7 linked regions of the Homo sapiens genome follow. The protein of the gene in region 3 purifies or fractionates together with the protein of the main gene of each other region. This does not show direct contact. Each region holds a gene or a part of one and is shown on either strand. Other genes may lie near its edges. The genes, in order: NPLOC4, PRDX4, ARMC9, ANKRD22, EIF4B, CEP290 and KRT9.

Region 1 (3,500 bases), on a different chromosome or scaffold from region 3:
GACGCAACTCAATACACTGAATGCTGAGACACCTCTCCCTCTGCCTCTGCAACCACGAACAGGGTCCAAGAAAGAGGAGCAGGCAGCTGCAAAGCAAGCTCTTGCTCTCTTCTCCCAAGAAGATGCTCTCAGCACACCTGACTACCCAGATGTGCAAGGAGACATGCTTATAAAGCTGACTCAGACTGGCCAGGTGTGGAGGCTAACACAGTAATTCCAGCACTTTTTAGGAGGCCGAGGCAGGCAGGTGGTCAGGAGTTCGAGACCAGTCTGGCCAACATGGCGAAACCCCGTCTCTACTAAAAATACAAAAAAAATTACCCAGGCTTGGTGGCGCGCACCTATAATCCCAGCTACTCAGGAGGCTGAAGCAGAAGAATCGCTTGAACCCAGGAGGTGGAGGTTGTAGTGAGCCAAGATCGCACCACTGCACTCCAGCCTGGGTGATAGAGTGAGACTCTGTCTTCCAAAAAAAAAAAAAAAAAAAAAAAAAGGCTGACTCAGACAGAGACACAAACATGGAAATGCGCCCTGGTCCCCCGGTGGAGAGTGGGCTGCGGGAGGGGCCTGGGGCCCCCTTCACGGCAGGGAGACAGGTCTGACTTTTCCTGTCGAGCTGTATTCTCCATCTAGGGCAGCAAGAGGGAGGAATGTGCAGGGCAGCCGTGATGCAGCACGGACATCTTCAGCAGAACCAAACACAGAGCTTCAAGAGTGCACCCCAATAACTGGCTTTGCACCTCTGTGAGCACCCCAAGTCCCCTGGGCGGATGGGCACTGAGGGGATCAAAGCATAGAAGAAGCTTTGTCAGCCACTGAAGAAAACCTCATTATAGACATTCTTTGACCACCTTCTGAAATGTCTGTTAGCAAGTTATGATTTAAGAACAACCATGTGTACACAGCCTGTCTACACAGTATGCAGGCGTGACAGCAAATCGGACCTGGCCTGATCTGCCAGTGAGAGCAGAGGCCAACACGGGAGCCACGCTAAGCAGCAGATCAACACTACACACGGGAAAGCCGAGGCCAGGCCGAGAGGGGCCACACAGCCCCAAGGTGCCTAAGAAGGGCAGCAGGTGACCAGGCAGGGGCCAGGCCAAACCAACAGTGACGAGGCTGCTGGCAGAAGACACAAAGCAACACATTTGGGAAAATTACGAGGTCCACTGAAGATGTGGCCAGTCAGGACGTCAGGGGATTAGCCTTTGTGGCCGTCCATCACCTAGCCATGGGAAGGGCGTCCACGTGACCAGCAGTGCCCCACAGTAGGCCCTAGCTGGCCTGTCACAAGAATGAATCGGGAGCATTTGAAAGCTTGATGTTTTCTGGAAAAACAATACTGACACTAGATAACAATCAGCAGTTACCTTAAATTATGTTTCTAAAGACAAAGAGCTCACCTGTGTCTCACCCAATACATCCCGGTTTTCAATAGGAAATGGATTTTGCGAAATAGAAAAAGTGTAAACTGGATCCTTGGGGAAAGTTGTTGTGATCTAATGAAGAAAAACACAAACCCATGATAAATGAGGCTGAAAATGGTGTGGCCGACTCCCAGCCAGCCCAGAGCATCTCCCAGAGCCCAAATTAACGACTCCTAGCAATTCTGAGAATGTTCTACAAGCTCTCCATCAAAGGGAACCGTTATCTATTAGTGTCATCTCTAAACGAACACTTGGAAACTCCGCCATCCTGGAGACAAACTACACCATATCCGGGCAGCCTCCGGCCTGTGCACCGGCCTCGACGTCGGACAAAAAGGGCACTGGGACTCCCCTCGTGGCACAGCTTCCCTTCAGAGTCACACAGGTTCTCTCCCTCTGCTATGGAGGAACGAAAGGCTGGTTTGGCCCCTTGGCCAGGTGACAGGAAAGGAACGGAAGGGCCAGGAGGCCGCCCCAGGAGCTGACTTTGCTCAAGAGAGATTCGTGTCATTGGATTCGGAGGGCAAATGAGCAATCAGCCAGCTTTCAAGACACAAAGCACCCTTCAGCAGCTCACTAAGCCCCTTCTGAATGCTGGGAGCCACTCCACGGAGCTGTGGGCTTTTCCAGGCAGGGGTGAATGTAAGGCCCTTGAGGAACACAGGGTTCAGCTCTTCTCTCTCCCTCAGAGCTGATACCCAAAGGCCAGCTAAGTCCTTCAGTCCTTCACTGGCTCAGACAGGCCTTAATGACAACAGAGGGCACTTTGCACCTAAGATATAATCAATAGATGCTACAGGGACAGTGGTAAATGTGCAAGAATCAATAGAAATACCACTTTTATTCTTCGTGACAGACACCCCTCCCCAAAGCAGCACCGAGTTGAGTTGATGCTGCTTTTCTCTGCAACACAACAGCAGCAGCAGAGGTCACACCTCTTCCAGATTTAGGGGAACTATTCTGGTTCCTTTGGGACTATTTCTAAAGAATGAGTGTGGTTCTGGTCTGTTTTCTGCATCAGCAAAGGCAGTGAGTTGTTGAGCTAGCTGGCCCAGGATTTGCTGTGCCAGCGCCAGCCGCTGTGGAAGGACAGCTGAGCCACCAGCAGCATCTCTGGCCTGAGCTGGCCCTTCATGGGCAAGCGGCGGGGTGGGTCATGAAGACTCGGGCCGCGGTGCCACGTGTCGGCTACATGGCCTCGTCAGTTAGGGATCCTGGGCCTCACTTTACTCTTCCTCAGGATGAAGATGATCGGAGTACTCGCCTCCTGGGTGCCCAGCACGGGGCTGGTACACATAGTGTTGGTACACACAGTGCTGGGTCCCAGCTGAAGACAGGGGAGGTGCTGACCTCCTGCAGAGACAAAAGCCTGGCCTGCTCAGGCGCGTCCCTTGGGAAGGCCTAGAAATGAAGAAGGCGGCACCCCCAGAACACGTGCTAGTGAGTGAGCTAGTGGGACTGACGGGGGCTCTTGCTGGCCTTGTAACTGGCCCTTGGAGGGGAACAGAACCAAAGTCCACACAGCCCATCCCAGATGTCCCAAGGAAGGGCATCAGCTCCCATCTTACACTGAAGCCATTTCCCTACCCTACCCATCGTCTATCAGCCAGATGATGCCCCCAGAACCCACAAAGAAACCCCAGTAACACTGGCTGGTGCCTTTTCCTGCCTGCCCAGCCATCCCATCCCAAGGTTTAAGAACCTTGGCTGAGGCCAGCGCCTGTGGCCCAGGGCTGGGCATGGAGCTTGACACACCTCTCTGGGCACCTGCTCTCAAGGACTCCCCATGCCTCACTTCCACAGGGTCAAGGAGCCTGGGCATCACAGAGCAGAATGCTCTCCCACAAACAAGTACTTCTGAAAAACTGCACTAAGGCAAAAACTTAACTTCCTTTATAAAAGAAGAGGAAAGAAGTGGGGAGGCTGCTTGGGGTAGAAGACCTGAGAAAGCTGGTTTTAAATCATGCCTGCTCCTCCTGGGTGCATGCTCCATCAATCTGTTTTCATCTTAATTACACCCTAGGTAGTCTAAAAACCAGATGCCTTCACGGCCTAGGTAATAAATATGTTCTC
Region 2 (3,500 bases), on a different chromosome or scaffold from region 3:
AGGATTTTTTCCGATTTTGGTATATCTGCATACTTACTGGTTGAACATCCCTAATCTGAACTCTGAAATGCTTCACTAAGCATTTCCTTTGAGCATCATGTCAGCACTCAAATTTTGAATTTTGGAACACTGTGGATTTCAGGTTAGGGACGCTCAATCTGTATTCTGTAACTTGAAACCAGGAGACATGGGCTGATGCTCTAACAGGAGGGTACTGACACAGCAGATAGAAAACAAAACGACATTGCTCTAGATATCTGGAGCCCCAGTTCTGACACCCAAGTAGAAATTTCTGGTTGATGTGAACCCTATCAGGCTGAGAATGTATCCCCAAATTTCCTTGGGAAAGCAATCCCAAATTATTTGGGATGCCATAACTTTTTCCTTAGTGGATATGCATTTTAATCCTCGGAAGATTTATAATTACTACAGAAGTGATGAAGCACAGCCCGGGCAACATGGCAAGACTCCATCTCTACAAAAATAAAAATTAAAATAGGTATGGTGGTGCAAGCTTGCAGTCCCAACTATTTGGGGAGGTAGAAGGATTGTTGGAGCCCAGGAGTTCAAGGCTGCAGGGAGCTATGATTGATTGTGCCACTGCACTCCAGCCTGGGCAACATAGTAAGACCCTGTCTTTCTTTTTTTAAAGGAAATGATGAAGCAAATTAAGCCTATATTTTAATTTTTTTTTTTTTTTTGAGACAGGATCTCACTCTATTGCCCAGGCTGAAGTGCAGTGGTATGATCTTGGCTCACTACAGCCTCGACCACCTAGGCTCAGGTCATCCTTCCATCTCAGGCTCCCGAGTAGCTGGGACCACAGGCATGCACCACCAGACCTGGCTAATTTTTTTTATTTTTTGTATAGATGGGGTCTCACTATGTTGCCCAGGCTGGTCTTGAACTCCTGGGTTGAAATGATTCTCCTGCTTTGACCTCCCAAAGTGCTGGGATTATAGGCGTGAGCCACCATGCCAGGCTATTTTAATATTTTTACATTAAGAAATAATCAGTACATATTTATATGTTAAGTTATTTATAATGTTTAAGAGAATTTGGCATATTAGAACTACTTAAGTATTTGGGAAGGTTTGTCTGAAAATTGAGATACTTAAGGAATTCAAATATATTAAATATATAACTGCATTTAAAAATACTTATGGGAATTAATTTCTTAGGGAAATGTAATTAATTAAATTGTAGCTCACCAAGCAATGAAAATTTGTTATACACACACAGATTATAAATGAGAAAAGCTTGTGTTTCAAATTTGTAACTTTAATAAATTGAATATTATGTTTTAAAACCAATAGTTCTGAATCTTTTTTTTTTTTTTTTTTTTTTTTTTTTTTTGAGATGGAGTTTCACTCTCATTGCCCAGTTGCCCAGGCTGGAGTGCAATGGCGTGACCTCGGCTCACTGCAACCTCCACCTCCTGGGTTCAAGTGATTCTCCTGCCTCAGCCTCCTGAGTTGCTGGGATTACAGGCACCTGCTACCACGCCTGGCTAATTTTGTATTTTTAGTAGAGACGGGGTTTCTCCATGTTGGTCAGGCTGGTCTCGAACTCCCGACCTCAGGTGATCTGCCTGCCTCGGCCTCCCAAAGTGCTGGGATTAGAGGCATGAGCCACTGTGCCCAGCCCAATTCTGAATGGTCTTTATTGTGCACAAAGTTTTCTGCACAAGACTGTGGACACTATAAAAACTCATATTAACATGTAAATTTCCAATTTTGAGACATGTTGCCCAACTGCTCTCCAGAAATGCTAAACAGCTGTGTGTGAGTGCCGTTTCTTCAATTTTTGTCCACAGTGGATACATTTTTTCAATCTTTTAAATCTTGGCCAACCAGACAGGGAAAATTGGCATCTCGTCATTTTAATTTGCAATTCTTTATAACGAATTTAGGTAAAACATCTTTTTATGATTAATGAATTTTTAAACATTTTTTAAAATTCATTTTTAAAAAGTATTGTTTCTTCAAAATTGTAAAAGCTGAGTTTGACTATATAACTGTGTAACAGAGAAATGGCATATTTTAAAGATTTTTTTCCTCCAGATTATGGTAACCCAATTTATCATAAGCATATAATTCAGTGGTTTTCGCTATAGAAATCACATCTATTGCATTTAACTTTTCCCCTTATTTTGAAATGTCCTATAAAATCCTTAAGCATTTTTATTATAGCAGCTGATTATATTACTCTTCTCTCTTTTTTTAACCTGGAAAATGTGTAGTTACATGTATTACTCTTAGATAAAGCTATTCCTGAATTGTCTGATAAATGACTATATTCTTATATCATATCAAGAGTTATCTGTCCATGCTTTAAGAGTAAATCCATTCTTTTTTTTCTACGAATATAAGTGTAAGATACTGACCAGGCCAAATGGGTAAACTGTGAATCAACAGAGCATGCTACCACTTCAGTATTTATAGATCTGAATTCTTCAAGTCTGTCGCCAAAAGCGATAATTTCAGTTGGACACACAAATGTGCTGAAAGGTAAAAAAAAAAAAATATTCAGTATTCTCCAAATAAGCATATACCTAAACTTTCAAATGACAATTTTTACAAATACCTTTAATAATAAAAATGCACATTAAGAACAATTTTATATTTGAACCTTTTCAAAATGGAGTAGTCTAAAAGACTGTCATTTAATCAAATATTTAAGACAGAAACATATTACAGAGTTCCCAACTACATCTCAATAAACTTTCTTATTACAACTTAATAGATCAGTAGTCAACCAATGTTCCCTTCTCCCTTATAGCAATAGCCACCCCTCATTTTATTACTTTTATTTAATAATACCTTTTATTTATATAGTATTTTATAGCTTTCAAAGGATCTATACAAATTTTATGTCATTTCACTATTTTTTTTTTAATATTCCTATACCAACCCTATGAATTAGATGCATCTATGTGTATTTTGGAGAGGAGGCAATGTTTTCCAGTACCCCCACCCCTCCTTTCTTGATAAGGTCCTCTTCCACCTTGTCTACCAGTCCTGTGCAGCCAGGGATTTTATACCTTAATACCCTCATGTTGTCAGGCCATGTTTACAGAATATTACTAGGGTGGCATTTTTTCAAACCGTGGTAGGGACTCCTTAAATTAACTGAGTTCTAAAAAATATTTTTAAAAAGTGAAATCGAATAGAAAACAGGAGACTCTATCATACATACTAAGGGTAAATTATGAAACACATATTTATATATACAAATATATATGTTTGTCTTCAACAGTGATGATATTCAAAATATTTAACAATCTTAACTCAAAGCTGGCTTTAGTTCTGGAGGTTTCTGAAAGGGATCAGGCAGGAGGACTAACTAGTTGGTGAGGAAAGGGAAGTGGCTATTTACCACATGATATGAGGGTTTTTCAGTATTTTAAGGAGCATGGCTGTGCTGGTGCATCCAGATGGAATGTTACCGTATATATATGTGCCTGTGTACTGGCTGACAACGAAAAATGTATTTCCTAC
Region 3 (3,500 bases):
CTCCCAAAATGCTGGGATTATAGGCGTGAGCCACCACACTCAGTCAGATCTCTTCTGAGTCTGTAACCTTACATTTTTCTGCCACTGCCTCCCCACCTCCTTTCTCTCCACTTCAATCCAATTTCTACACTTTTAACAAGTGAGCATTCCCCTCCTGCTTGGGACCCTCCTGTGGTTCCAGCGCCCTCCAGATGAAGGCCAGGCTCCTTAGGCTCAACTCCCAAAGCCCTAGACAACTTGGCCTCTGACACACTCCCATTTGTTCTGTAAACCTGAGCCACACTGGCCACTGTGTGGTTCCTGTGGACACCCACTGAACACCCAAAGCACACGCCTGCCCTCGTGAACTCTGGCTCACTGCCCTTCCTTCAGATACGTCTCATTCAGGTCTCTGCCTAACTGTCACCTCCTCAGAGAGTCTTGCCCTGACCACCCTTTCTAAGAGGTCGGCCCATCACTTCTCAGCCCTTTGTACTGCTTGATTTTTCTCAACAGCACCTGACAGGTGTTCCCCTGTGCCTAGACCAGTGCCTGGCACACAGTACAGGCTCAAAAACATGGACGGAGTGGAAATTGATTCCAGACATGAAGAAAACAGCGCAAGGAAAGGGACAGAACCTGAAGGAGACGGGTATGGGGTTATTTTAGATAGAGTGGTTGATGGCCTCACTGGGAATGTGACATTTCAGCAAAGATTGAGCACCTGGATCTGGGGAAGATGGCTTTGTTAGTGCACAGGCCTCAGGCTGAAGAGCTCTGCAGTCTTGGGGTATTGGGATGTAGCTAGGGGTGAGGCAGACAGCAGCAGGCAATGGGGGGCCGGGGCCAGGTCAGGTGGGCCTTACAGAGCTGGTAAGTGGCTTGGACATTAGGCTGACAGTAACAGGAGGCTCAGAGAGAGTATGGAGGAGGGGACTGACACCACTGATGTCCTTTTTTTTTTTTTTTTTTTTTCCTGAGACAGAGTTTCCCTCTGTTGCCCAGGCTAGAGTGCAGTGACATGATCATAGCTCACTGCAGCCTCAAACTCCTGGACTCAAGCAGTCCTCCCACCTCAGCCTCCTGAGTAGCTGGGCCTACAGAGTGTGCCACTATGCCCCAAGTCTTTTGTTTTCTGGTTTTTTCATTTGTTTGGTTTTTGGTGAGGTTTTTTTTTGTTTGTTTGTTTTTGAGACAGAGTCTCGCTGTTGTTGCTTGGGCTGGAGTAGAATGGCACAATCTTGGCTCACTGCAACCTCCACCTCCGGGGTTCCAGCAATTCTCCTGCTTCAGCCTCCCGAGTAGCTGGGATTACAGGCACCCGCCACCATGCCTAGCTAATTTTTGTATTTTTAGTAGAGACGGGGTTTTACCACGTTGGCCAGGCTGGTCTCGAACTCCTGACCTCAGGTGATCCACCTGCCTCGGCCTCCCAAAGTGCTGGGATTACAGGCATGAGCCACCACGCCCAGCCTTGGTTTTTTCAGAGACAGGATTTCACCATTGCTCAGGCTGGTCTTGAACTCCTGGGCTCAATCCTCCCTCCTCTGCCTCCCAAAGTGCTGGGATTACAGGGGTGAGCCACCACGCCCGGCTGCTGATGTCCATTTTTTAATATGCATGTTGCCTGCTCTACAGAGAAGACTGGAGGGGAGTGGGAAGAGGGAGATGAGTACTGCTCAGGCCACGCCAGCCATGAGCATCATTTGGATAAGCAAGAGGGGCCATGAGCGCTGTGAGTCCAGATGGAAAAGGCAGAAGAGGCACAATCTGCAGACCAGTTAGTTGTGGGACATGAGGGGAAGAAGGGAAGGAAGAACCCTGGGATCTGAGCAGCTGGCCGAAGAGTATGTGATTTGCTGAGTCAACGAAAACCTGGGGAAGGACTGTTTTGAGGTCAAACCAAGAGCTCTGTTTTGGCTATAAGTCTGAGCTGCCTGTTAGACATTCCAGTGGAGGTTCCGAAATGGTCAGTGGGTATTGTAAGAACCAAAGAAAGAGGAGAGAGGAGAGAAACACGAAGGGTGGCTCGACAGTCAACAGGTTTATTTCAAACCTGGGAGGGACTTCCGACCGAGTTAGGTCAGAGCCACACTCTCCTACAGACTAAGAGTTTTTAAGGATTCAGGGTGGGAGAGTTTATCAAAGGCTTGAACTGTTTCTGTGTCTCTCTGTTGTGCTTATCTGGGAGGGAGAGTTGTGTGTCTGTTCCTATACAACTTTCTGCAGCTGCAGGCATACCCCCCAAGTCTGCTTTTAGCTTCCCTTAGTGCACCTGAAGGGAACAGAATGTCCTTATTAAGGCCCACTGTTATACTGAGGCCCATTGTAAGAGGGTGAAGTTTGGCCGTTACCCAGGAAACAAACCTGTTGACTGTCAAGTCACCCTTCGTGTTTCTCTCCTCTTTCTTTAATTCTTACAGATATATGAGCCTGGAGTTTAAGGGAGAAGCAGGAACGGCATTCAGAGGGATAGCAGAGAATATGGGTGCTGAGCAAAGACACAGATTTAGTGATTAGAAGTGAAACAGGCTGGGTGCAGTGGCTCACACCTGTAATCTTGGCACTTTGGGACACCAAGGCAGGCAGATCACTTGAGCTCATGAGTTCGAGACCAGCCTGGGCAACGTGGTGAAACCTCATCTCTACAGAAATACAAAAATTAGCTGGGTGTGGTGGTGTGTGCCTGTAATCCCAGCTACTGGGGAGGATGAGACAGGAGGATCACTTGAACCAGGAAGGTCAAGGCTGTAGTGAGCCGGGATCACGCCATGGCACTCCAGCCTAGGTGACAAAGTAAGACCCTGTCTCAAAAAAAAAAAAAAAAAAAAAGTGAAACAAGAAACAAGATCAGCTGGGCACGGTGGCTCACGCCTGTAATCCCAGCACTTTGGGAGGCCAAGGCAGGCAGATCGCCTGATGCTGGGAGTTCAAGACCAGCCTGACCAGCATGGTAAAACCCCATCTCTACTAAAAATACAAAAATTAGCCGGGTGTGGTGGCAGGCACCTGTAATCCCAGCTACTCTGGAAGCTGAGGCAGGAGAATCGCTTGAACCCAGGAAGTGGAGGTTGCAATGAGCCGAGATCGTGCCATTGCACTCCATCCTGGGCAACAGAGTGAGACTCTGTCAAAAAAAAAAAAAAAAGAAAGAAAGAAAAAAGGTCATCGGCTGCAAGTAAGAAGCATGGTGACAGTTCGAAGAGAAGGGAGAGTGGGAACGGAAGGGAGGGTGGGAACCAAAGCGACTACAGCAACATGGCAGGGTTGCTGGTATTATAGTCCATTTAAGATCTCTGCACTTGAATCTAAAATGGAATCAGTCTGCACAGTTTTGCAGCTCTTCTCCAGGCACTTTCAGCTATCTGAGTTAGGTTAACCAATGTGAGAGGTTCTTCTAGAAGAGAGAGGAAAGGGAAAACAGTACAACCACGATGGGACACTGGAACTAATCAGGTTAAGAATGGGGGAGGGGAACACACATAAGGCGGCTGCAGAGCAGTGAGGAAGCAGTGGGGTCT
Region 4 (3,500 bases), on a different chromosome or scaffold from region 3:
AAATTGGGACAGATATTGAGGTCTGGAGTCTGTGGATTATTGTTGACTTTGACAAAATAAGCTAGACATTTTCACCTTGTTGCCACAGAGACATAACACTACCTCAGGAAGCTGAGCTGCTTTAAGGACAACAACAACAAAATCAGTGTTACAGTATGGATGAAATCTATGTTAAGCATTCTCAGAATAAGGCCAAGTTTTATAGTTGCATCTCAGGGAAGAAAATTTTATAGGATGTTTATGAGTTCTCCAATAAATGCATTCTGCATTACATAAAGCATGTATGTGCATTTCAGTGTCTAGATTCTAGTCCAAGCTTGTTGGAAGGTTTACAGCTTGTTGCTAGGAGACCTAATGACTAAAAATTTCTGGCTCAATTTTCTGCCTCCAAAAATTAAAAGCTAGGGAGAAAATTGCATAATGTCATGAGCATGATGAAACAAATTGTCATATACTTTATCCTTTAATCTTGACAAAGTTAATGTCAGACAGTCTCTGCAACTCATTGACAAACCATGATTTATTTCTTCAGAAAATTATTCCACTTTTACACAATTTCAAAGATGACAGTTGTAAATTACATTGGTACTATTTTGCAAAATCTCTGAAACCAAATCAAAGGTTTGTGTGTGTCAAAAGTATATTGTTGAAGGTATACTGGTGTGTGAAATTCACTTGTGTGGGTTTTTTGTCCCCAAGGGTCACCTGGTAGCTCAGCTCAATGCCAGTGAATCTTAATTTATTAAGACACGTTTAAAGACTTCAGAATCTATATCTACACACTATTACTTCCTTCATAAAATAAGTTTCTTAAATCCTGTACACAGTTGAATATATATTGCTGGATTTGATTTTCATTAGAGCTTTCAAGGATGGTAAATCTTTCATTCTTATACTGTACTTGTTACCACATACAAAGAGGCTGGCTTAGTTCCTGTCTGCAGCTATGTGAGATTCAGTCTTGATTTTCAAAATTCAGTCATATTTTTAAAGTGAATTTATTTCTACTCTGTGTCATTCACAGAAGAAGTGAGACAGATATTTTGATATTCGCAATCTCTCACTTAGACAAATAATCCAGATCCTACCTCATTGTATAGCTCTGTTTCTTTTGAAGAACTTTATCCAAATAAGTTACAATAATATTTTACATCTATCAATAAAATAAACAAAACTAACAAGCTTGGCAACCACCTTGTATTTACAAAAGGATCATGAAGATTTTTTTAAACGAACATTTTCATAGTTGCATAGTCTTGCTCAAACCAAGATGGCTTTTATTTGTAAACCGAAATCTCTAGTGGTATGCTGGTAAACGAACTTTATGGAAAGTAAAAAACAAAAAAACAAAAACAAACTCTGATTTGTCAATTTGCCAATTTCTGTGGTGTAAACACACTCACCGCTGACACTTGATAGATGTTTTTATTGAAATTCCTTCACCAAAGGAATATTTACTTGTGAATCTCTAAGCCCACACACATACACAAATACCATTCTGTACAAACATACGTATTTAATAATTTGATTCTTCTGCTCAATACTCAAAGGGGGCTGGGAGGAACAGTTTGTCTCCTAGGGCATGACATAGACTGGACAGTCTTTTTATAAGAGTGATACAACTGGGAAGGGAGAACGCTGTTTCAGAAGATAACTCAGATCCTCTTCTTCAGGAAAGACTGAGTTTGGAACACCAGGGCTTTTTTTTTTTTTTTTTTTTTTGAGACAGGGTCTCGCTGTGTTGCCCTGGCTGCTCTCAAACTCCTGAGTTCAAGTGATCCTCCCACCTCAGCCTCCCAAGTAGCTGGGATTACAGGCATGTACCACTGTGCCTAGCTGAAACATCAGTTTCTGACTGAAGTGGAGACTACAACAACTTTAGTGTTTCCCTTAGAAGGATTACGGCCATGGTGAACTTGACTGAGTAAACAATGCTATAAATAAAAAGCTCTTCCAAAACATTAACCATGGTAAGCATCATTATCCCCATAAAATGGTGGCATCCAGGTTAAATGGCCCACAGACCAAAAGTCTAAAATGAAGATAGAATCCAGTCGTTAACTTTTTCTGTATCTCCATCGGTGTGGTCACAAGGATTACAATGCTTTCCTTAGCATTAATTCAATCTGGGAAAATTTTAATCTCCGTGCAATATCCAGTGAGCTCTCACCATGCTGAGGGGGGAAAAATATACAGTTATTTCCAATAGAGTGCCCAAGATCTCGTACGTAGCTTAGACCAATTGACTCTCTGTGTTGGCAAGGGCTTTAAAAGGCAATCAGTCCTAATAGTAATAGGATAACTTCATTCCTTAATGAGGATGATTAATTTTACTGTTGTTTACGTCAGAGGCAAATAATTTACTTCAACATAAGGCCTAGATTAGAAGATGCTGCTGCTAGAGGAACCTCAGACCACGGTCCACCCTCCCTTACCTTATTCTTTATTGTGGGGTCTGCACGGGCTTCCAAGAGCAGAGGGATAAGAGACTGGTTTTTCATTTCACAGGCATAATGTAATGCGGTACAGCCATACTGAAACACAAAGGGCCAAAACTTCAGCTCATAAGTCGGGCCCTCCACAGACCATAGCATGTGGCTTCATTGGCAAATCCTTTTCACACTTTGTAGTATACAACTAAGCAGAAAAATAGTCTGCAAACCATTGATAGACAACTATTTCTAGTACTTAAAAAATTTTTCGCCGGGCGCGGTGGCTCACGCCTGTAATCCCAGCACTTTGGGAGGCCGAGGCGGGCGGATCACGAGGTCAGAGGATCGAGACCGTCCTGGCTAACACGGTGAAACCCTGTCTCTACTAAAAGATACAAAAAATTAGCCGGGCGCGGTGGCGGGTGCCTGTAGTCCCAGCTACTCCGGAGGCTGAGGCAGGAGAATGGCTCGAACCCGGGAGGCGGAGCTTGCAGTGAGCCGAGATTGCGCCACTGCGCTCCAGCCTGGGCGACAGAGCGAGACTCCGTCTCAAAAAAAAAAAAAAAAAAATTTCTTCTCTGTCTCAATGTATATGTATGTTAGTGTCATATAAGCCATCAATCTCTGCCTTTTTGTTTTCCATTTTCTGTTCTAAAGAATGCAACTTAAAAAAGCTGATGCTGAATTGTGCCAAAGTTTCTTTGTCGCATGCTATATGCCTCGGTGATCATCACCTTGATCATGTCACCATCTTTCCCTTAAAGAGTCTCCACATGGCCCTTTACATAAACATTATCCTCTATGGTTTTGGTGATGATTCCTACTGAAGAAGTCGGGTGCTCTTGCTGCAGGACACCTGCAAGATCAGTGCAGTTCTACAGAGACATTTCCCAAACGTGATTTGTTATAGCTTATATTATGTGTTATAAGCTAGTGCATCTACTCTGTTGGTACTAATTTAAAACACTACAGGTCAAAAAAATTATAGCTAGGGCATTAGTGTCCAAAATTTGGCCTTTGGAAAAGTAGCCAAGCAACCATGGTGCTGGTGAGTGAAGAAATAGTACC
Region 5 (2,630 bases), on a different chromosome or scaffold from region 3:
CAAGACACAGGATACTGATCCTTTGGCAATGGGGGATGACAGTCAGATGACACCCACTTGCTTGCTCATCAGCATTGTCCATTGGAGAGGAGCTAGGGAAGAGGGTCAGAGGCACATGCGATCTTACTATAGTCTCATACCACCTCTACACCTTGCAGAAGGGATGAGAACAAAGGAAGACAGAAACCAGGAAAAAGCTAAACTTCTTTCGCTATTTCAGTAAAGACCAATGTCTTATTTCCAAACACTTTGTATTCCAAATGGAAAGAAGTCCAACGGCAAAAAGTTTAGAATACTAAGAATTTTTAATTCTTAGTAAGAATACTTAGAATTCTAAGAATTTTTCTTAGAATGAAAAATTGGGAGCAGCCTTCAACACTTACGGAAGCTGGATTTTCCTCAGGTTTCTTTGGCTCAGGTGCAGATCTGGAGTCTTGATCCTTTTTGCCATCTTTCCTGCAGAGACGTAAGCATAAAACCATGTCTTTAGGAAAGGACTCGCCTAATACAAACATGTGTATGCATGCAGTTTCAAGGCACTGAACAGGCACCTCTAGTCAACAGTCCTTGTTGTCTGGATGATGTATTACTTCTAGATTTTCAGAATCTTAACTGTCTACGTTGGCTGACTTTAGTTTGCTCACAATGAGCGATCTGGCAGTGCTCTGAGAACCAAGAACTTAATTTCTTAATTACACAAACATGTGGATCAGAGGAAAGATGAGAAAGAGAACAAGCATACCTATCTGACTCCTTCCAGTGGTCTCTGTTCCCTCCGTCGCCTGGACCACGGCTAGAGTTCCCAGTTTGGCCTTTTGGGGCATTCATCCCATCTACTTTATTTTCATCTGCTTGGGCAGTAATGTAAACAAATTAAAGGCAAGTAAAAGTATCAATGTCCCTCTCCTAAGATTTCCCTTAAGCTGAAGAAAATTGTGCCCACATGTACTGAGGGAAACTAACCTCACCCCAACCCAGACTTCCTTCCTGAAGCCCTTCTTTCCACATCCTCTACAGCACACAAAAATACAAAAAACAAACAAAATCCACTAAAAAGTTCCATGTAGGGATATGCCATCATGAAAAGCAAGCTGGAAATAAAGATTATGACGCTCTGTAGTGACCTTGGTTAATTTCCTTCCGATTTTTTTCTCCCCGTCAAAGAAATGTTCTACCAGGAAAGGGCAGGGTTTCATACTTTCTCCAAAGAGGCCACTCCTCCCTCTACTGGCAAGAAAAGGTAGATAACCCAATAATTCTTTTTTTTTTGAGACAGAGTCTTGCTCTGTCGCCCAGGCTGGAGTGCAGTGGGGCCATCTTGGCTTACTGCAACCTCCGTCTCCCGGGTTCAAGCAATTCTCCTGCCTCAGCGTCTCCCGAGTAGCTGGGATTACAGGCATGTGCCACCACACCCGGCTAATTTTTTTTGTATTTTTAATAGAGACGGGGTTTCACCATGTTGGTAAGGCTGGTCTCAAACTCCTGCCCTGTGATCTGCCCGCCTTGGCCTCCCAAAGTGCTGGGATTACAGGTGTGAGCCCCTGCGCCTGGCCAACCCAAGAACTCTTAACACGGTATCAGGTGCGAGACACACTGCTCTTCAAAATCTAATTTTGGAGGCCTTTTTATTTAGGCTTCTAGGTGAAAAACCTATTTCCCATACTATGAGCTCACCTTTCCTTCCTGGTCCTTCCTCAGATGGTTGAGCTGGAGCTACTTTTCCCCCACCACTAGAAGGAAAACAGGTAATCACATTCATCAGTTGTTTCAGGGAGAAAACAACCAAGAAACATAATCATCCTCCAAATGCAGTGGGTAAGCTTTATAGAAAACAAAATCATACTCAATGTTATGGAACATTAAAATATGGGAAAGATTACAATGAAAGCAGTAATTTGAACACTAAAGTGCCATATGCTTTCTAATCATCACATCATGCAGGATTAGTATTGCTATTTTCTTTTCTTTTGGAGTCTTAACTCTGTCGCCCAGGCTGGAGTGCAATGGCACATCTCGGCTCACTGCAACCTCCGCTCTCAGGTTCAAGCAATTCTCCTGCCTCAGCCTCCCGAGTAGCTGGGATTACAGGTACCTGCCACCACGCCAGGCTAATAGTGTTGCTATTTTGCTTACAAATGAGAAGACTTAAGAGAAATGAAAGGAAGTTACCCCCTACCATACTGCCAATATGTGGCAAAAGGGAAGCCTCTGACTTACAGTATTTGCAGATTTGTGCGGCATTAGTACTCCCATCATAGCTGATTTCAAGCTATCAAAGTGGTGGAACTCCAGAAAATGGAACAACTAGGTCTTATGAGCCAGTTCCAGCACACTAAGAGACTAAAGCCAGCATAACTTATAAGGTGCTATACAACGCTGGCATCCCGTAGGAGATCTTCCATCATTACATCACAGTATTTTAGAATCTGCAGTTAACCAACTACTGTTTCCAAACTGACTCACCTTGTAGGGGACTGCTGCTCTGTGTCTGAGCTCTGAGATCGAGCAGGAGGGTTAGAACTTCGCTTCACCCAAGCATTCTCCTTTGGTGGAGGGGCTGGCATTACCTTTAGGGGCTGATCAGGTTTGGGAGGTTTAGAAGTTGGAGAGTGGCAATCTTCCTCCTTATT
Region 6 (3,500 bases), on a different chromosome or scaffold from region 3:
AATGTGGTAGAGAAAGTATGGATCGATGCCACTTAAATGTTAGGAAGAAGCTCTTAGAGCATTATCTGTTTAGCTAACTGCAAAACATAGCAGACATGTGGATTTTTTAATAGTCATCAAGGATCTAACTTATAATATACACTGGTAGAATTGCTTAGGGGGATGTCTGTGGTTTTCTGGACTTTTGTTCTTCTATATAGACCTGTATCAGTTGACTTATCATTCATACCACACACCCTTAGCTAATCAGAACTACCTTGTCCATTTATATCTTAGACTATTGTCTTTTTTCATAGTCACACACAGAGAAAACTTGAATATATGGCCTGTGTTCCTTTTTGGCTGCTCAATTCCTTGAGATGAAATATGGGTATGGGTTGCTTTGGCAATTACTTCTTTGCCGTTAACCAGTCATTCAGTTTTATTGAGTCTTTACAGCATACCAGAGGCTGCTAGTTACTAGTGATATAGTGGGCAACTATGTTCTGGTTCTCAAGAATATTCATAGTCAATAATAAGCATAACATAGTGATAATATGATACTTAGGGAGATACATAAGGTCATATTCTGGCATACTCTGGAGAGAGATACCGTAATCAGCCTTGAGGTGCAGGATGTGATCTGTAAACTGAGACCTGAAGTATAGTTAGACTGGTAAGAGGAATGAGGATATATATGGTGGTTAATAAAAGAACATTCTGGGTAGAAGATATAGCATTTGCTAAGACCTAGAGGTAAGAGATGTTATGGAGTATTTAGGAAACTACAGTTATTCATTTTGACTGAAATATAAGTGAAAATAGCTTTCATAGAGTCCTTACTATGTGCCAGGCACTTCATATGCATTAATTCATTATTGCTTATTTGATACTTGTCATATGAGATAGTTGTCATTTCTGCCATGATACAGATGAAGAAATGGAGACACAGAAAGAGTAATTGCCCATGGTTGCACAGCTTATAAATGGTAAAGGTAGGATTTGAAAACAGTCTTACTCAAGAGTCTGTGCTATCTTGCCTTCCCAGTTTTATTTTTTATGATCCTCTGGAGAGATAAGCAAGGGCCAGTTCCTAATGAATTTGGTTCTTTTCCTGAAAGGAGCCAGTGAAGAGTTTTGAGCACAGGATATCATGATCAGATCTATACTTTAAAAGTTTACTGTACTTTGTAGAGAGTGGATTGAAAAGGGCCAAGACTAGTAAGGAAACATTTGTGTTAATTCAGGGAAGTGCTAATGATGGCATTTGCCTGAGAAAGACAAGTGTGAGAGAAGTAGATGTAATTGGATGTGGTGAATGTAATTGGTTGTTGGAGGAGAGGGAGGATGGAGAGTCTGCCTAATTTTGTGGGTTGGGCCACTAAATAGGTAGATAGTGCCATTCATTAAGGAGGAACACAAGAGGAATTTGGAAAGCTTGAGATTATTTCAGTTTTGTAGATGTTGAGTTTGAGGTTCTTCTGGGCATATTCAAAAAGGGTATCTGTGGATATGGAATTCACAAGAGACCCTGTACAGATGATGAGGATTTATGAATCATCAATGTAGACATTATTGAAGCCAGAGAAGTGATTGTAAGGCACGTCTCTGAGAAATGTCTAATAAAGCAATGAAATAGGAAGAGTGCTTCAAGGAAAAGCTCAAGAAAGGAGAAACAGAGTGTGATGTTTGAGAAGACAAGGGAAAAAAACATTAATAGCATTAAATGCTTTAGCATTAAGTTCTTGGCTTCTCTTCTTGTAAAAATTTCCCAATTCAGAACACAGTGGGATTATTAACTTTCAATTGATAATAATAATGATAGGCAAACTTCTAAAATTTGTATTGTAGTTTGCATTTTATTATAAACTTTCTTTAAATTTTTATTTTGAAAAATGTCATATCTTCATAAAGATTGTAAGAAACACACTGTTGGTGTTAATGTAAATTAGTTCAACCATTGTGGGAGACAGTGTGGCAATTCCTCGAAGATCTAGAAGCAGAAATACCACTTGACCCAGCAATCCCATTACTGGGTATATACCCAAAAGAATATAAATCATTTTCTTATAAAGATACTTGCACACATATGTTCATTGCAGCACTATTCACAATAGCAAAGACATGGAATCAACCCAAATGCTCATCAATGATAGACTGGATAATGAAAATGTGGAACATATACATCATAGAATACTATGCAGCCATCAAAAGAGAATGAGAGGTCAAGCGTGGTGACTCATGCCTACAGTCCCAGCACTTTGGGAGGCCGAGGCAGGCAGATCACTTGAGGTCAGGAGTTCAAGACCAGCCTGGCCAGTATGGTGAAACCCCATCTCTACAAAAACAAAACAAAACAAACAAAAATTAACTGGTCATGGTACTGTATGCCTGCAGTCCCAGCTACTTGGGAGGCTGAGGCAGGAGAATGACTTGAACCCAGAAGGCAGAGGTTGCAGTGAGCTGAGATCGCACCACTGGACTCTAGCCTTAGCAACAAAACTAGAGTTTGTCTCAAAAAAAAAAAAAAAAAAAAACCGGAACAAGATCATGTCCTTTGCAGGGACATGGGATGGAGGTGGAAGCCATTATCCTCAGCAAACTCACACAGGAACAGAAAACCAAACACTGCATGTTCTCACTTATAAGTGGGAGCTGAACAATGAGAACACATGGACACATGGTGGGGAACAACACACACTGGGACCCGTCAAGGGGTCGGGGTGGGAGAACATCAGGAAGAATAGCTAATGGATGCTGGGCTTAATATCTAGGTTATGGGTTGATCTGTGCAGCAAGCCACCATTGTACACATTTACCTAAGTAACAAACCTGCACATCTTACACATGTACCCCAGAACTTAAAAGTTGATGGGAAAAAGAAAAACAATAACCACCCACATACCCTTCATATAGATTCACCAGTTCTTAATGTTGTGCCAACTTTGCTTTATCTTTTTGTCAGTATTTTTACACACACATGTATTTCTCTGTCTCTTGTTTGTTCAATCACATTTTTTGCTGAGTCATTTAAGAGCTAATTGCAGATATGATACTTTGCACTTAAATATTTCAGCTTGTCTGTTTGAAAAAGAAAGATGTTCTCCTACAATGAACACAATATAATTGTCATGCTCAGGAATTTTAATATTGATTCAACACCATTATCTAGTCCATAATGAGATTTCTTCTAATGGCCCAATAATATCCTTCAGTCTCCCCACCTCCAATATCCAAAGTTCTGTCAAGGATCACATACTACATTTGGTTCTTTATTATAGACTTTTTAAATATCGTTGTATACCATTGTGATTCTATCGTCTCCTTTAATAAAGAGGAGAACCAGAAAAATGAAAGGTCATAAGAGGAATGAGGTTTGGAGAATAGGTGAAAAAAGGCATCATAATGTTTATAATAATGTTTGCCTGTTCAGAGAAACAAGAATCACAGATAAAGTCACTTATATGTAGATAAGAGAATGCTGTATTACTTTTTGCTATTCTATTCACTGATCATTTTTC
Region 7 (4,198 bases), on a different chromosome or scaffold from region 3:
GCATTTGGGAAGCATTGTATGATTTTCTAGGGGGCCTGGGGGATGGTGGGAGATGGGGCAGGAATGGAAAGATGGGGATGGGCCTAAGTGCCAGGAATGTGGACCTTATCTTGAGGGTGGAGGGAAACTGGTGAAGTGATGTTGTCAGACATGGATTAGAAAGGTCATTCTGGCTGCTGTGCAGGAAGAGTCAGAGGGAATGGGAGAGGCAGGGAGGGCAGTTAGAAGCTCATGGCTAAGGTCTGGGTGAGGGCAGAGTTGACGGGGAGTTAGGGGGCTGAATGATCAGAGGCAGCCGAACATTTTTTGAGCACTTCTCACAAGTCTCTTACTAGGAGATGGACAAACTACTCATATCAACCTTTTTCAAAGGAGGAAACTGAGGCACAGAGTATTTAAGTAACTTATCAAAGTCACACAGCTCATGAGCATGGAGCTGGATGGAGCTCAGGTAGGCACACCGGAGACCAGCGTGTTCTTTACCATTCTCTTCTGGCCTTGGTGACCAGAATATACATCCAAGTTTCTGCCAGGAGCAGGGATAAGTCACACATCTCTGTATCCCCTCCAGAGTTCTGTATGGGGTAGGCACTCAACCAAGGTCAATTCCACACTCCCTGCTGGGCCCTGCAAAAGGACCAGGACAGTCGAGCCACTTGCATTCCTGCTCAGAGGTCAGCTAGTGTCAGCACCACCTTGTTTATTTGGTCCACTTTCTTCTTCCAGCCCTTTGTGTGAACTCTGCACGCTGTCCTTTAGTGCTGGCGGGCATGGTCTCGGTGCCCGTCTCCATCTTTTGGCCATGCCAGTTGCCTCCTCATCAAACTGGAGTCTCCCAAGGGCAGAGCCTCAGACTCTGCAGAAAGCCTCGAGGATCCTGAGAGCAAGGATTGGTTTTCATCCATTTGGGGCTCCACAAGGGCAGGGGCTGTGCCTCCCCCTCCTCTATGATAACTCCTTAGTACCCTAGTTCCAGCTCAGCTCACAGTGGGCACAAGGTGGGAGCAAGGAGGCATGAGGGATGCAGACAGTAATGACCATCAATAGAGGAGGTGACTCTGCTCTTGGGAGTTTCTATCCCGAAGGGGCTAAGTCTCAGACCTGCTGTTGGGGCCAGCCAGAGACCAGACTCCAGGATCTAGGTCACCCCTGTGGCAGTACAGCTGATTTATGGTGGCCCTGACAGCCTAATGTCATCAAATTATCCCACACAATGGAGAGAGGCTGGGCCGCCCCCAGGCAGTCACCAAAGGACGCTGAGCCTGGGGCAGCCCGGCTGCCTCCGTATCCCAGACCTCCCTCGGGTCTGTGGGGGGAGGCTGGCACAGAACAAGGGCACACCCAGGCGTGCCACCTTCAGCTGGGGGTATAAGTAGGCAGCCCCAGGGACAGCTCTGTACCCTGCACTTGGGAGCCGGTAGCACTCCTATCACTGCTTCTCAACCCGTGAGCTACCAGCTGTGTCATGAGCTGCAGACAGTTCTCCTCGTCCTACTTGAGCCGCAGCGGCGGGGGTGGCGGGGGCGGCCTGGGCAGCGGGGGCAGCATAAGGTCTTCCTACAGCCGCTTCAGCTCCTCAGGGGGCGGTGGAGGAGGGGGCCGATTCAGCTCTTCTAGTGGCTATGGTGGGGGAAGCTCTCGTGTCTGTGGGAGGGGAGGCGGTGGCAGTTTTGGCTACAGCTACGGCGGAGGATCTGGGGGTGGTTTTAGTGCCAGTAGTTTAGGCGGTGGCTTTGGGGGTGGTTCCAGAGGTTTTGGTGGTGCTTCTGGAGGAGGCTATAGTAGTTCTGGGGGTTTTGGAGGTGGCTTTGGTGGTGGTTCTGGAGGTGGCTTTGGTGGTGGCTATGGGAGTGGGTTTGGGGGGTTTGGGGGCTTTGGAGGTGGTGCTGGAGGAGGTGATGGTGGTATTCTGACTGCTAATGAGAAGAGCACCATGCAGGAACTCAATTCTCGGCTGGCCTCTTACTTGGATAAGGTGCAGGCTCTAGAGGAGGCCAACAACGACCTGGAGAATAAGATCCAGGATTGGTACGACAAGAAGGGACCTGCTGCTATCCAGAAGAACTACTCCCCTTATTATAACACTATTGATGATCTCAAGGACCAGGTAGGTGCAGGAAACTGTCTCTGTCTTGGTCTCTTTCTCTTTCATTCTTTATCTTCCAAAAAAGTTAAAATGCTAAACTCTAAGCTCAGATAATAGCCAGGGAATCCACCTTTTGGAAATGTACGCTTTCATCAGAAACAAACTTGTGTTTGGTTTCTGGGGATCCCAGGATAGGACTTTGGCCTGTGCTCTGAGTGTTCACTTCCATTTCCTCAACTTTCAGAGTTTGGGCAGAGCAGAGAGGAGACCTGGGTTAACGTGAGCTGAGCTGGGACTGGATGTGGAACCTCCTTTAGGTTTGGTCTAAGTCAATACTTTCTCTTCCTTTGTACTTCTCCTGGGCTTCTTTAGGAGTGTATCTTGATCTTTTAAGGTATTTTGGACCTGACTGTACATGTTGGTTATTCAAGTGTTGGAGAGGATCCAGAAATCTGGGAATGGAAGCTATCTATCCATCCATCCTTCCATCTATCCCTTCCTCCCTCCACCCACATGTCTATCTATCTATCCATTTATTCAGCCACTCAGTTCAGTGAGTGCCTACCCTCAGGGTTGCTCTGGGTAGACATAGTGATGTGCTAGACCTAGTTCTGGTGGAGCTCACGGTCTGGCTCTTCAGTATTCTCAGTGATTCCTCTTGTTTTAACTCCTGCATGTCTCTGAATGTGCTGTTTCTTCTACTCTAAACCTCTTCCATTTATTTATTAATGTTACATCTTAGCCATCCTTCAGGGCCCAATTCAATTGCCAGCCACCTCCTTCCTGAAGTCTTTCTTGATCTCCCATTGCCATAAGCCACCTCTCCTTTCCTTGAACTCTTTTAGGACACTTTTGACTTTGTAGTCAATGGTGGGCTCCCTGAGGAACAGGATGTCAGTAATCTCTAAATCCTACAATGCCCTTTGCAGTAGATCTTCAAATATTTGTTGAATGAATGAATGAAGGCCACACCAAACATCTTCGCTGAAGGCTGGAAGGGGTCTGTGCCATGTCCCAGCTGTTGGAAGTTCCTCATTCCTCTTGAGAATCTTCCTGGATGGAATCCTCACCTCCTGTGGCTTTGCCTGGCCTCTTGCCCTCTCAGCAGTGGTCCACAGCATGATATCATGGCTGTGTCCTTTTTTTTTCAGATTGTGGACCTGACAGTGGGCAACAACAAAACTCTCCTGGACATTGACAACACTCGCATGACACTGGATGACTTCAGGATAAAGTGAGTCCTGCTCCTCTTCTCCTCTCCTGTCATCAGCCCTTACCCCTGAACCTCAGTGCTCTGGAGGTCCTGGTAGGGCCTGGTTCCCTCTTGATTGTTTTCTAACCCTGGCTGGTCTGCAGGTTTGAGATGGAGCAAAACCTGCGGCAAGGAGTGGATGCTGACATCAATGGCCTGCGGCAGGTGCTGGACAATCTGACCATGGAGAAGTCTGACCTGGAGATGCAGTATGAGACTCTGCAGGAGGAGCTGATGGCCCTCAAGAAGAATCATAAGGAGGTAGGTTGCTGGGGCTTATGGCTTACCGGGAAGAGGGAGGAGCAGAAATGCAGAGACAGCAGGGGAGCTTTGGAACATTACCTGGGAGACACCCTCTCCTTTGCTCTTGAGGACACTTTCAACTTCTCCTTGGCATCACCTATGGTAGTGGTTGGGCTTTGGCTTCACAACTGTGTCCCCTTTTTGTACCCTGGGGGGACCAGAGGGAGAATTCTGAAAGGTGGTGCAGAGGACTTTATCCGTGACCTCATCTCCCCTTCTTCCCTGGCAGGAGATGAGTCAGCTGACTGGGCAGAACAGTGGAGATGTCAATGTGGAGATAAACGTTGCTCCTGGCAAAGATCTCACCAAGACCCTCAATGACATGCGTCAGGAGTATGAGCAGCTCATTGCTAAGAACAGAAAGGACATCGAGAATCAATATGAGACTCAGGTGAGCAGAGTGGGCTGCCCATTCATCCTCCTCCCCTCCATCTATTCCTATCTCCATCCCTCCCACCTCCCATTCCTTCATCCTCCTATCTCTGCATCTCTCAGTGCAGCTGTCATTTATCCATCTTCCAATGGAAGTCATTCATCCATCTTCATTCACTGCATAC

The links.
Region 1: the proteins of ARMC9 (region 3) and NPLOC4 fractionate together in Homo sapiens (co-fractionation; one large-scale study listed by BioGRID). This does not show direct contact.
Region 2: the proteins of ARMC9 (region 3) and PRDX4 purify together in Homo sapiens (co-immunoprecipitation; one large-scale study listed by IntAct). This does not show direct contact.
Region 4: the proteins of ARMC9 (region 3) and ANKRD22 purify together in Homo sapiens (co-immunoprecipitation; one large-scale study listed by IntAct). This does not show direct contact.
Region 5: the proteins of ARMC9 (region 3) and EIF4B purify together in Homo sapiens (co-immunoprecipitation; one large-scale study listed by IntAct). This does not show direct contact.
Region 6: the proteins of ARMC9 (region 3) and CEP290 purify together in Homo sapiens (co-immunoprecipitation; one large-scale study listed by IntAct). This does not show direct contact.
Region 7: the proteins of ARMC9 (region 3) and KRT9 purify together in Homo sapiens (co-immunoprecipitation; one large-scale study listed by IntAct). This does not show direct contact.

Annotation. Positions count from the first base shown.
Region 1 is NC_000017.11:81,567,613-81,571,112, forward strand, and holds part of NPLOC4 (nuclear protein localization protein 4 homolog), read right to left. Parts: intron 1,500-3,500; coding exon 1,404-1,499; intron 1-1,403. UniProt on the Homo sapiens protein: The ternary complex containing UFD1, VCP and NPLOC4 binds ubiquitinated proteins and is necessary for the export of misfolded proteins from the ER to the cytoplasm, where they are degraded by the proteasome.
Region 2 is NC_000023.11:23,673,993-23,677,492, reverse strand, and holds part of PRDX4 (peroxiredoxin-4 precursor), read right to left. Parts: intron 2,504-3,500; coding exon 2,387-2,503; intron 1-2,386. UniProt on the Homo sapiens protein: Thiol-specific peroxidase that catalyzes the reduction of hydrogen peroxide and organic hydroperoxides to water and alcohols, respectively.
Region 3 is NC_000002.12:231,201,631-231,205,130, reverse strand, and holds part of ARMC9 (lisH domain-containing protein ARMC9), read right to left. Parts: intron 1-3,500. UniProt on the Homo sapiens protein: Involved in ciliogenesis. It is required for appropriate acetylation and polyglutamylation of ciliary microtubules, and regulation of cilium length. Acts as a positive regulator of hedgehog (Hh)signaling.
Region 4 is NC_000010.11:88,820,845-88,824,344, forward strand, and holds part of ANKRD22 (ankyrin repeat domain-containing protein 22), read right to left. Parts: intron 2,535-3,500; coding exon 2,436-2,534; intron 2,175-2,435; coding exon 2,097-2,174; 3' UTR 1-2,096.
Region 5 is NC_000012.12:53,037,456-53,040,085, reverse strand, and holds part of EIF4B (eukaryotic translation initiation factor 4B), read right to left. Parts: coding exon 2,464-2,630; intron 1,731-2,463; coding exon 1,675-1,730; intron 849-1,674; coding exon 743-848; intron 457-742; coding exon 384-456; intron 1-383. UniProt on the Homo sapiens protein: Required for the binding of mRNA to ribosomes. Functions in close association with EIF4-F and EIF4-A. Binds near the 5'-terminal cap of mRNA in presence of EIF-4F and ATP.
Region 6 is NC_000012.12:88,132,089-88,135,588, reverse strand, and holds part of CEP290 (centrosomal protein of 290 kDa), read left to right. Parts: intron 1-3,500. UniProt on the Homo sapiens protein: Involved in early and late steps in cilia formation. Its association with CCP110 is required for inhibition of primary cilia formation by CCP110.
Region 7 is NC_000017.11:41,569,260-41,573,457, reverse strand, and holds the start of KRT9 (keratin, type I cytoskeletal 9), read left to right. Parts: upstream 1-1,398; 5' UTR 1,399-1,465; coding exon 1,466-2,107; intron 2,108-3,237; coding exon 3,238-3,320; intron 3,321-3,442; coding exon 3,443-3,599; intron 3,600-3,870; coding exon 3,871-4,032; intron 4,033-4,198. UniProt on the Homo sapiens protein: May serve an important special function either in the mature palmar and plantar skin tissue or in the morphogenetic program of the formation of these tissues. Plays a role in keratin filament assembly.